3 linked regions of the Homo sapiens genome follow. Changing the gene in region 1 together with any one later gene gives a genetic interaction. Each region holds a gene or a part of one and is shown in the gene's direction. Other genes may lie near its edges. The genes, in order: PTP4A3, MYH9 and MCOLN1.

Region 1 (3,745 bases):
CCTGCTGTTTGCAGGCCTGGGGCCGTTTGCAGCGTCTGCAGTTGTGTGCGGGGCCGTTGACAGAGCCTCTGACTGTGCCAGGCTGTGTGAGAGGCTGCAGCTGTGTGCAGGGTCATTTATGGCTGAGTCCTTTCCCCTGTGACATGAGATAAGCCATCATGGTCTTGTCATAATGAAACAGATTTGGGCGTGAGAGGGCATTAAGAACTGTAGAGCAGCAGGAGGCATTGGGCACCTTGCCATCAGGGAGCCTGGACCCTGGACACTGAGCCAGGTGCCCTACAGAAGATGGCTGTCCCTCTCGCAGCTGAGACCCCTGAGATAACAGCAGCATCTACAGAAAGATTGGCGAGAACAGCACGGTGAGTGGCCAGGGTGAGGCCTCAGAATATGACTGGGATCAGGGTTAAGTCTGTAACCAAGGTCAGGTCTCAGTGTGTGACCAAGGTTGGGGCTCACTGTTTGACCAGGATCAGGGCTCTGTGTGACCAGGGTCAGGGTTCGGTGTGTGTCTGGGATCAGGGCTCAATGTGTGACCAGGGTTGAGGCTCAGTGTGTGTCCAGGATCAGGGCTCAGTATGTGACCAAGGTTGGGACTCAGTGTGTGTCCAGGATTAGCGCTCAGTATGTGACCAAGGTTGGGGCTCAGTGTTTGACCAGGATCAGGGCTTAGTGTGTGACCAGGGCCAGGGTTTGGTGTGTGTCTGGGATCAGGGCTCAGTATGTGACCAGGGTCGAAGCTCAGTGTGTGTCCAAGATCAGGGTTCAGTGTGTGACCAGGATTGAGGCTTAGTAGGTGAGCAGGGTTAGGGAGGGCTCATCCTGTGACCAGGGTTAACGCTTAGTGTCTGACCAGGATCAGGGCTCAGTGTGTGACCCAGATCAAGGCTCGGTATGTGACCAGGATTAGGGCTCAATGTGTGACCAGGGTTGGGGGCTCAGCACGTGATCAGGATTAGGGCTCAGAGGTGTGTGACTATCAAGGCTCAGGACGTGACCAGGATCAGGGCTCAGTGTGTGACCAGGATCAGGAAGGGCTCAGCCTGTGACCAGGGCCAGGGCTGAGCCGTGGGCTGGGTGGCCATTCCCTCTGCTGAGGGTGCAGAGGGCCTCTGAGGTACCCCATGGCCACAGAGCCCAGCACCCTGCCTGCTCCCTGCATTCTCAGATAGTTGGGTGCTGGCCTCTCTGTGTTCCAGGTCCCTGTCCCGTGACCAGCAAGACCCATCAGCTGATTCCTCACCCCTCCCAAAATAGCTACGAGAGCAGGTGGGGTGGGAACAGCCCCCGCACGTGACCCCTGTGGAGTGGATCCTCCGCAGTGGGGGTATAACTATCGGCCTGGCTGTGAACTACCACCACCTTTTCCCTGGTCGTGTGGGGCTTCCCTGCTGGCGTACAGGGCCCAGCTTCCTCCTGGCTGCCATCTGAGCGGTGCCCACCCTCCCTGCTCTGAGGCGCCCCAGCTGATGCCCGCCCCTCTTAGACCCTAAAAACTGGACCCATCCCTGCGGCTCAGCTGGGGTCGCTGTTCGGATGCAGGGGCTCACACGTGGGCTGGGGAGTCCAGTTCCTGCTGTGGGGACCCAGTAGCTTTTCTGGAAGAAATGTCCTTGCTGGTAGATCTGGGGTCCTGAGCACCCCAGAGGAGGGAGTGGTGTGCTGGGCAGCTGGGGTCCCAGCTGCCAGTTACCGTGAATGTAGGTGGGGACACCTTTGCCTCTGCTGGGTGGCCCAAGGGACCTAGGACAGGCTCTTCGACAGCCAGACACTACCTCGACCAGTAGTGGAGCCTGAAGTCCACTCTTGGTGGACCTCACTGCATCAGGGTCTGCCTGGCTGGAGGGTGACATGCCCTTCCCTGGGGGCTTCAGGGGCCATGACCCTGCCCCAGGGGACTGAGGGGACAGGGCTCCACCCCGAGAGGTCTGAGGGGACATGTCCAAGTCCTGGGTGACTGTGGGGGACACAGCTGTGCCCTGGGAGCCCTGGTGAGTGGGTCCTGCCCCCTGAGCCCTGCAGCCCCAGCCCAGCCCTGCCTCCTCCGTCCTCCCACCCCCAGGACCTGAAGAAGTACGGGGCTACCACTGTGGTGCGTGTGTGTGAAGTGACCTATGACAAAACGCCGCTGGAGAAGGATGGCATCACCGTTGTGGTGAGGCGCGCGCCACGGGGACCCTAGTCACTGCTGCCACCGGGGGAGGGTGGGGCGGGGGGCTCCGGGCCTGCGCAGAGGGTTTGGTGCCCCTCCTGTGGCAGCCCTGGGCATGTCTGTGCCTGGGCCACGTGTGTGTCTGGGTACATCAAGGGAAGGCCAGGGTGTTGGGCCGTGTGACCTCAAGAAAGTCACCCTTGCGCACCCGTCTTTCTGTCTCTAGGGTGGGCCAGCACGGTTCGCCAGGCAGGGGTGGCACATGCTTGGTGCATCGGCCAAGGTGGCGGGTGGGCTCCTCTGCCTGTCTCAGGCCCTCCTCTGGGCCTGTCTTGGGTGCATCTCAGTCTTGCTGCCTGGGCGGCTGGGGCCCTGTTGCCAGGCAGCAGGCTCCTGGGGAGGGCCCTTGGGCAGTTTCCTCGGCTTCTTTGGCCCTGGGGACCCAGGTCTGGGCGGGGGGTGGGGCGGTTCTGCTGCGATATCCTTGGGGGGGTGGGCCACAGCAGCTGCAGGCCCAGAGCCAGCCCCAGGGGGGTCCACCCCCGGCCCGGTGGACGACTGCCCCCCTGGTGCAGGCCTGCCCAGCTGCGCCTGGGCCTCAGTCTCCTCAGTGCGGAGCACCCCTCAGTCACTGCTTTTCATCCCAGGACTCTGCTTTTGGCTGGGGTTGCAGTTTTGTGACCTCAGCTTGGCGGTTTGGAATGGTGGCAGCGCTGGCGGTTTGGGGTCAGACAGGCCTTGGGCTGCGTCCCGCCTCTGCCCTCCCCAGCCTTGCGACCCTGCAGGTCACTCCGAGCCTTGGGTTCCTCACCTCAAAGCGAGGCTGCTTGGAAGAATGGGAGGCAAAGGCATGTCCCCGCTTCTCGCACGGGGTGCGCCCACACCCTCCCTCCCCTTCCACAGCAGCGGGAGGGATTGGGGTCAGACGTAAGTAGCCGTGACACCGGTTGTCTCTAGGAGTTGCCCTGCCTGGAGGCTGGGGAGGGGTGAGATGCCCCCGAGGGCTGTGTGTCTGCCTCAGTGGGCCCAGCGGGCTCTCCCTGGTACCAGACAGCCCCATGCCTGGCACAGTCCCTGCATGAACCCGCCTTCCCAAGACTGAAACGTGTCCACTCCTACTGCAGCGCCCTGGCCCGGGCCCTCCCCTAGGAAGACTCACGTTGCCCACCGATCTAGGGCGCTGGGGGACGGGACAGTGGGAAGCACAGGTCATCTTCCAAGACCAAATTAACCCCCAGGAGCAATGGGCCGGGGCCCGGTGGAACCGCCTGTTTCGAGTCCTGCCCTCAGAAATGTGGGCCCTGTCTCGCCCCACAGCCCTGTCTTCAGTCCTTCCTGGCACCTGGGCTGTGTGTGGCATGTGCCAGCCATCTTTGCATGCCAGCACAGGGGATGAGACCCTTTGCACCAGCCGACCCAAAACCTCTCAGGCTGCCACCGGCACACAGGCGTGAGGGATTGTGACCCCAGAACCAGAGCTCGGGCTGACAGGTGTGGGGATTAGGATTTGTGCGACTCTGGAGCAGGCTCTATTCAGAAAGGGGTGGGGTGGTCCAGGAAGGCTTCCTGGAGGAGGGGATAGCTGCAGTGTAC
Region 2 (3,745 bases), on another chromosome or scaffold:
TAAACAAACGTCCTAATTTACTGAGCATAAAACAGCATCTCTGCCTGCTGGGGCAGGAAGTGCATTTCCCTTTGTGCAGCCCCAGAGAGTCACTGCCTCTCAGCCTTAACCCTTGGTGTGCTGAGACCCTGGGCTGGAGTCCTCTGCTGACAAAAGAATGGAGCCCTGGCAGTGCTGCTGCTGTGGCTTACTGAATCCCACTCTTAGAGCTGGGAAGAGTGGGGTAGTGGAAAGAACGTGAGCTTTGGAAACAGGCCGAGTTCAAATCCTGACCATGCTACTTAATAGCTTTGTGACCTTAGGCAAGTCACATAGCCTCACAGCTTGGATGTGCTTATGTATAATATGGGAATCAAGATCCTACCCTGTGGGGTTAGATGCATGAACTGAAAGAAATAAGGTATGTACATGGCCTAATATGTAGTGGCTGTATATATATATATATATATATATATATATATATATATATATTTTTTTTTTTTTTTTTTTTTTTTTTTTTTGAGACAGAGTCTTGCTCTGTCGCCCAGGCTAGAGTGCAATGGCGTGACCTCAGCTTGCTGCAACCTCTTCCTCCTGGGTTCAAGCAATTCTCCTGCCTCAGCCTCCCGAGTAGCTGGGATTACAGGTGCCCACCACCACACCCCACTAGTTTTTATATCTGTAGTTGAGATGAGGTTTCACCATGTTGGCCAGGCTGATCTCGAACTCCTGACCTCAGGTGATCTGCCCATCTCGGCCTCCCACAGTGCTGAGATTACAGGTGTGAGCCACCGTGCCCGGCTCATATATGGTTTTTGTTTGTTTGTTTGTTTTTTGAGATGAGTCTCACTCTCGCCCAGGCTAGAGTGCAGTGGCACAATCTCAGCTCACTGCAACCTCTGCCCCCAAGGTTTAAGCGATTCTTCTGCCTCAGTCTCCCGAGTAGCTGGGATTACAGGTGCCTGCCACCATACTTGGCTAATTTTTGTATTTTTAGTAGAGATGGGATTTTGCCATGTTGACCACGCTGGTCTGGAACTTCTGACCTCAAGCGATCCACCGGCCTCGACCTCCCAGAGTGCTAGGATTACAGGCGTGAGCCACCACACCCAGCACCCCCTCGCCCACTTTTTTTTTTTTTTTCGAGACAGGGTCTCACTCTGTCACCCAGGCTGGAGTGCAGTGGCACTATCTTGTCTCACTGCAACCTCCGCCTCCTGGGTTCAAGCGGTTCTCATGCCTCAACCTCCCGAATAGCTGGGATTACAGGTGCCCGCCACCATGCGTGGCTAATTTTTTTGTATTTTTAGTAGAGACAGGGTTTCACTATGTTGGCCAGGCTGGTCTCGAGCTCCTGACCTCAGGTGATCTACCCGCCTCAGCCTCCCAAAGTGTTAGGATTACAGGCGTGAGCCACCGCACCTGGCACCCCCCCCCCTTTTTTTTTAATATAAATGATCAGTCTTAACTCCCTAGGTTATCAGGTTGAGGGGGTGGGGATGAGGCTGGGGGACAGATTGTTTTCCTGGCTTCTAGCTCGGTGTTCTTTCTGCCTCTGTGCACAACAAGGTATGCGTGTATTGTGGTTGTGGACTGTGGTTGTGGACTGCCTATTCACAAGTGGCTATGAGGCCCATCTGCTGATGCTTTTGGATGCACTTGGTGATGAACTTCTGCTGAGTAACCTCTTCACAGGGCCCCGGCTGGGACAGAAGGTGTGCAGACTGTGGTTTCAGTTCAAACACATGGTTTCCTGTGGTCTGGGAGATAGCCAAAGGGTGATACAGGAAGAGCACTGGACTTGGGTGACTGGAGACCTTACTTCCAACTCTGGCTCTGGGTGAGGGGAGGTTTGATTTCCTTTTTGTTTTTTGATTTCGTTTTGAAGCAGGGTCTTGCTCTGTTGCCCAGGCTATAGTGCAGTAGCATGATCATAGCTCACTGCAGCCTCAAATTCCTGGGCTCAAGCAATTCTCTGCCTCAGCCTCCTGAGTAGCCAGGATTACAAGTGCACACTGCTACACCTGGCTAATTTTTGTGTTTTTTGTAGGGATGGGATCTTGCTGTATTGCCTAGGCTAGTCTCAAACCCCTGGGCTCAAGCAACCCTCCTGCCTCAGCCTCTCAGAGTGCTGGGGTTACAGGTGTGAAATACTGCACCTGGCCAGGTTTGATTTCCGAGGAGGTGCCGTATCTCCCTACAAAGATATCATACCAGTTTATGTGCCCACAAGTTATGTATGGGAGTGCCTGAAAAACTGAAAAATTAAGTAATTTTATTTATTTATTTATTTCTTTATTTGAGATGGGGTCTCACTCTGTTGCCCAGGCTGGAGTACAGTGGCATGATCTTGGCTCACTGCAGCCTCTGCCTCCTGGGTTCAAGCAATATTCCTACCTCAGCCTACCGAGTAGCCAGGATTACAGGGGTGCACCACCACACCCGGCTAGTTTTTGCATTTTTAGTAGAGATGGGGTTTCACCACGTTGGCCAGGCTGGTCTCGAACTTCCGACCTCAGGCGATCCACCCGCCTTGGCCTCCCAAAGTGCTGGGATTATAGGCATGAGCCACCACACCCAGCAAAATCAAGTAATTTTAATTTCCTAGGCACTCTTTTTTTTGTTTTTTGAGACTGAGTCTCGCTCTGTTGCCCAGGCTGGAGTGCAGTGGTGTGATCTCGGCTCACTGCAACCTCCGCCTCCTGGGTTCAAGCGATTCTCCTGCCTCAGCTTCCCAAGTAGCTGGGATTACAGGCGCCTGCCACCACGCCCAGCTAATTTTTGCATTTTTAATAGAAATGGGGTTTCACCATGTTGGCCAGGCTGGTCTCGAACTGCTGACCTCAGGTGATCCGCCCGCCTTGGCCTCCCAGAGTGCTGGGATTACAGGCGTGAGCCACCGCACCTGGCCAGCACTCTGGTACCTTATTGATGGGAGTGTATATTGTACAACCCTCTTTTTAGAAGGTCGTTTGGGGCTGGGCATGGTGGCTCACATCTGTAATCCCAGCACTTTGGGAGGCCAATGGGGGAGGATTGCTTGAGCCCAGGAGTTCGAGATCAGCCTGGGCAACACAGGGAGAGTCTGTCTCTGGGTTACATTAAACAACAACAACAACAACAAAAGAAAGTTGTTTGGCAGTATCTGTCAAAGCATACTCCTTCCGACTATATTCTAGGAATTCATCTCACAGATAAACTCAGATGTGCTGAAGGAAATGTCTGAGAATCTTCATTGCGGCATTGACATAGAAGATGACAGGAAACAAGTTGTGCTATTAAAAAGGTCAACTAAATCATGGTACAGCTGTACAGTGGAAGTCCTTGCATCCCTTTGAAAAATGAGGTCAATCCATATGTACTGATAGGGTGTGCTCTCCAAGCTATGTTGTAAGTGAAAAACACCAGACGCAAAGTAGTGTAAATGGTGCTTCGTTTTGTGTAAAACATGGTATGTAAACTCTGCTCTGTGCATGCAGTATTTCTGGAAAGATACTGAGACCCTGGTAATGGTGGTTGCCTAGGGTCTAGGCAACAGGAGCAGGGAGTGAGCAGTACATTTCACTCAATACTTTTTTTTTTTTTTTTGAGATGGAGTCTCGCTCTGTTGCCCAGGCTGGAGTGGCATGATCGATCTCGGCTCACTGCAACCTCCACCTCCTGGGTTCATGTGATTCTCCTGCCTCAGCCTCCTGAGTAGCTGGGATTACAGGTGTGCGCCACTATGCCCAGCTAATTTTTTTGTATTTTTAGTAGAGACGGGGTT
Region 3 (3,745 bases), on another chromosome or scaffold:
ACCTTGTGCCCAGCCCAGACCTTGATCCTGTGCCCAGCCCAGACCCTGATCCTGTGCCCAGCCCTGATCCCAACCCTGTGTCCTGCCCTGACCCCTGTTCTCCCACTCGTGGCACTGTCAGCCCAGCCCTCCCTACCGGCGAGAGTCCAGAGTGGGTACAGGAGCAAGGGGCACTGCTGGGGCCTGATGGCTGAAGGAGACGCCGGCATCCTCGGGGGCCTGGGGAAGTTGTGTGTTGTGCAGTCAGTAAAATCCTCCCACTGCCTCCGGGCTCTGTGTCGTGGCTTGCCTTTTGTGCTTTCTTTCTGAGCACAGCCCCTTGCTCCGGAGATGGGACATTGTGGCCAGGGCCAGCCACAATCTGGAGCTCCAGTGTCCTGGCTTCCTTCTTGGGCCCACCAGCTAGACTTTCCAGCTTAACCCACAGTGTCTCATCCTGGTCCATCCCACTAGTCACCACTCTCTGTTCCTCTCACTTACCCCTTGCTCTTCAAAGCCCATACAGTAGGTATACAAGTGGACAAAAAAAGTTGCTCATTTATGCAATCAACAAACATCTCTGGATTGCTGGGGTCTCAGCAGGGAACAAGATAAATATGGCCTCGACCTGCATGGAGCTCATAGATACTAAATTCAGAATACTTAAAAAATAATTACGGGGTATAGTACATTCTAGGAGAAGCATAACAAGACTTCTGATATAAATGGCAGGCAGCTTTCTCAATGAAGGATTTTGTAATCCCAATAATCACTAATTTAATAATCAGTACTGTTTGCCCAGCCTTATGCGATAGTTTTTGCATTCTCTCATTTAATCCTCTCAACAGCCCCAGTAGGTAGATGACTTTGAATATCCCCATTTTGCAAATGAGAAAATTGAGGCACATTTTTTTTTTTTTTTTTAGACAGTCTTGCTCTGTTGCCCAGGCTGGAGTGCAGTGGTGTGATCATAGCTCACTGCAGCCTCGACCTCCTGGGCTCAAGCGATCCTCCCACCTTAGCCTCCCGAGTAGCTGGGATTGCCGGTGCATGCCACCGCCCACTGCGCTCAGCTTGGAGTTGAAGGGACTCTGGAAGATGTAGAAGTGGCATTGTCAGTGCCTAGATTTAAATCCCAATTGCCCTCCAGGGTCCAAATTCTTAACCATTACGCTCCAGGGCAAAAGTATGCAAAGGCTCTGGGGCTATAGAAAGATGAGCTTTGGATGGAGGTAGGAGCCAGATCAGAGGGCCCTGATAGACGAGAGTGGGGACTCTGCCTGTCATTACAGAGCAATGGGAAGCCGAGGGCAGGTTCTCGCAGGAAGGATAGGAATTATTCTTTGAAGATGCTTGTGGCTGCTGGGTAGAGAGTGGAGTGGAGGGAGGCTGAGATCGGGGAGGAGGTTGCTGCAAAGATCCAGGCCAGGAATGTTGGAAGACTCTGGGCTGGGGGCCATGGGGTGGGGATAAGTGGTTCTATTTGATACATAATTAGGAAATCGTGTTTGCTGAAGATGCGCAGGAGAAGGGTAAAAGGAGTTTCTGGGAGAAAGAGGAAGACAGCGTTGAGATAGTAGGCAGGGTCATCACCAGGCACCAAGGAGGATAAGGGGTCAAGCTCTGGACATGGAAGTCACAAGCCTGGCACCGGATTCGGGGCATGGCCGGGAGCCAGGGCAGAGCTCGTCGTTGCCAAACTCAGAGTCAGCCCATCCCCCGCCACCCAGAGCGCGTCGGCGCTAGGACCTAGCGACTGCCTTCGACCCAGAGGGCGCCGGCAGAGGCACGCATGCGCGCTGTTCCGGCAGGGGTTGTCGTGGCGCAGGGGGCGGGACCAGAGGCGGTCACGTGAGGGGCTCTGGGCTACCGGGTCACGTGACCGAGGCACAGATCAGCTGATGCCGGAGGGTTTGAAGCCGCGCCGCGAGGGAGCGAGGTCGCAGTGACAGCGGCGGGCGATCGGACCCAGGCTGCCCCGCCGTACCCGCCTGCGTCCCGCGCTCCCGCCCCAGCATGACAGCCCCGGCGGGTCCGCGCGGCTCAGGTGAGGGCGCGGGCGGCACCGTGGGGCCCCGAACTCAGGCGGGCGGGCTGTGTCTCCCACCTGGGGCGGCGGAGCTCCTAGTCTCTTTTTTTCTAAGCTCCAGCGCTGACTTTTCACGGTGGAGAAAAGGGCAGACGGCTCCTAGAACTTGGGCGGCGGGTGGGCACCAGCCTCTCCAATTCTTCCTCCTGAACCCAGGCTCTGCTGGGTTCCCAAACTCAGGCAGGGATCGCGCCGGGCCGCCAGCTTCTCCCTCTGGGGCGGCGAGGTTCCTGGGATTCCCACTGGGAGCCTAGGTTCCGATTGCTCAACTTCGTCTGGAACTCAGACAGCGGGCACCAGCTTCTCCAACCCGCACGTGAGACTCCCAGGCTTCCCCTCCTGATTCCAGGGGACAAATGCTCAGCTTCCCTAAGCTCAAGCCTGGAGAGCTGGAGGGATTGCCCCCAGGCGATTAACTCAGTTTTAGCTTTCCAAACCGCTGGAAGCGCAGCCTTCTTAAATTCGGGCTTCTAGCCAATTCTGATGCCACCCCTCCTCGGGGAGGCTGGAGGAAGACCCCTTGTGTTAGCTTCCCCTTCTGGAGCTAGCTGGGGACCCCTACCTGATAGATGTCCCGGTGTCCCAGCTAGTAGGGTCTGGGGTGGGTTAGCTGTAATCTCAGCTCTGTAAGCGGGCCCTGCCCTCTGGCTTTGTCGTAAACAGCCACAGCAGCATCTCATTGCAAAGGGAGGGGCCGGGAACTTGTCCCTCTCTGCAAGGGAGGTTCTGACAGTGCACACATTTATCCTGACTGCTTTGCTAGGCAGGAGGCCAGGCCCTAGAAAGCAGCACGGGGCCAGGCCCTAGAAAGCACATCCCCATGGGGGTGTGACAGGGACAGTTTTGGGCTACTGTGACTGGTTTTGACTCCAGCAGTTGCTGAAAGCTTAGATCTAACCATTAGGCTGGAAAAAAATAAACAGTGATTAGAACAGCTTGTGTTTGCTGAAGAGGTCTTTATCTGCTGTGTCTCACTGAATTCTCAGAGCAGCTTCAGGATCTCAACCTCAAGGCTCAGGGAGAGGGTGGACTTTTTTTTTTTTTAATAAACTTTTTTTTGTTGCCCAGGCTGTAGTGCAGTGGCATAATCCTAGCTCATTGTAACATCGAACTCCTGGGCTCAAGTGATCCTCCCAACTCAGCCTCCCGGGTAGATGGGGTCCCAGCTACTAACTACGGGCATGAGCCGTCACACCTGACTATTTAAAAAAAATGTTTTTTTTTTGTAGACAGGGAGGTCTCGCTGTATTACCTAGGCTGGATCCTCCCACCTTGGCCTCCCAAAGCCGTTGGGATAACAGGCATGAGCCACTGAGCCCAGCCAAGGGGTCGCCTTTTTAAAATTTCCACTCTTCAGATGAGGAGATGGAGGCTCAGGGAGGTACCTGGAGTCAACCTACTGTAAAGTGGCAGGTCTGGGATTTGATGCTAGGGCTGCATGATTTCTAGGAGCTGGTGCTTTTCAGGGAGATAAAATGAGTCTTTAGCGAATGTGTTCCATTATTATTACTTATGTTGTCAATTACCTCTTCTCCAGGTCCTTGGCTTCTGAGAGTGTCAGCTGATGGGCCAGGTTATAATGAACCCAGAGGTCATCTTTTGGGTATTTGTCCAGACAAACCTAGAATACAGGCTGAGTTCTATGCTCATGTCTGGAAGCTGGAGTTGGGATAAGCC

The links.
Region 2: changes in PTP4A3 (region 1) and MYH9 together harm fitness less than expected from each alone (positive genetic interaction), as found in Homo sapiens cells (one study listed by BioGRID).
Region 3: of PTP4A3 (region 1) and MCOLN1, changing one suppresses a phenotype caused by changing the other (phenotypic suppression), as found in Homo sapiens cells (one study listed by BioGRID).

Annotation. Positions count from the first base shown.
Region 1 is NC_000008.11:141,422,986-141,426,730, forward strand, and holds part of PTP4A3 (protein tyrosine phosphatase type IVA 3), read left to right. Parts: intron 1-2,062; coding exon 2,063-2,155; intron 2,156-3,745. UniProt on the Homo sapiens protein: Protein tyrosine phosphatase which stimulates progression from G1 into S phase during mitosis. Enhances cell proliferation, cell motility and invasive activity, and promotes cancer metastasis.
Region 2 is NC_000022.11:36,381,338-36,385,082, reverse strand, and holds part of MYH9 (myosin-9), read left to right. Parts: intron 1-3,745. UniProt on the Homo sapiens protein: Cellular myosin that appears to play a role in cytokinesis, cell shape, and specialized functions such as secretion and capping. Required for cortical actin clearance prior to oocyte exocytosis. Promotes cell motility in conjunction with S100A4.
Region 3 is NC_000019.10:7,520,756-7,524,500, forward strand, and holds the start of MCOLN1 (mucolipin-1), read left to right. Parts: upstream 1-1,868; 5' UTR 1,869-1,995; coding exon 1,996-2,026; intron 2,027-2,086; exon of another isoform or gene 2,087-2,407; intron 2,408-3,594; exon of another isoform or gene 3,595-3,745. Other genes in the region: ZNF358 (zinc finger protein 358), read left to right, coding at 1-194. UniProt on the Homo sapiens protein: Nonselective cation channel probably playing a role in the regulation of membrane trafficking events and of metal homeostasis. Acts as a Ca(2+)-permeable cation channel with inwardly rectifying activity.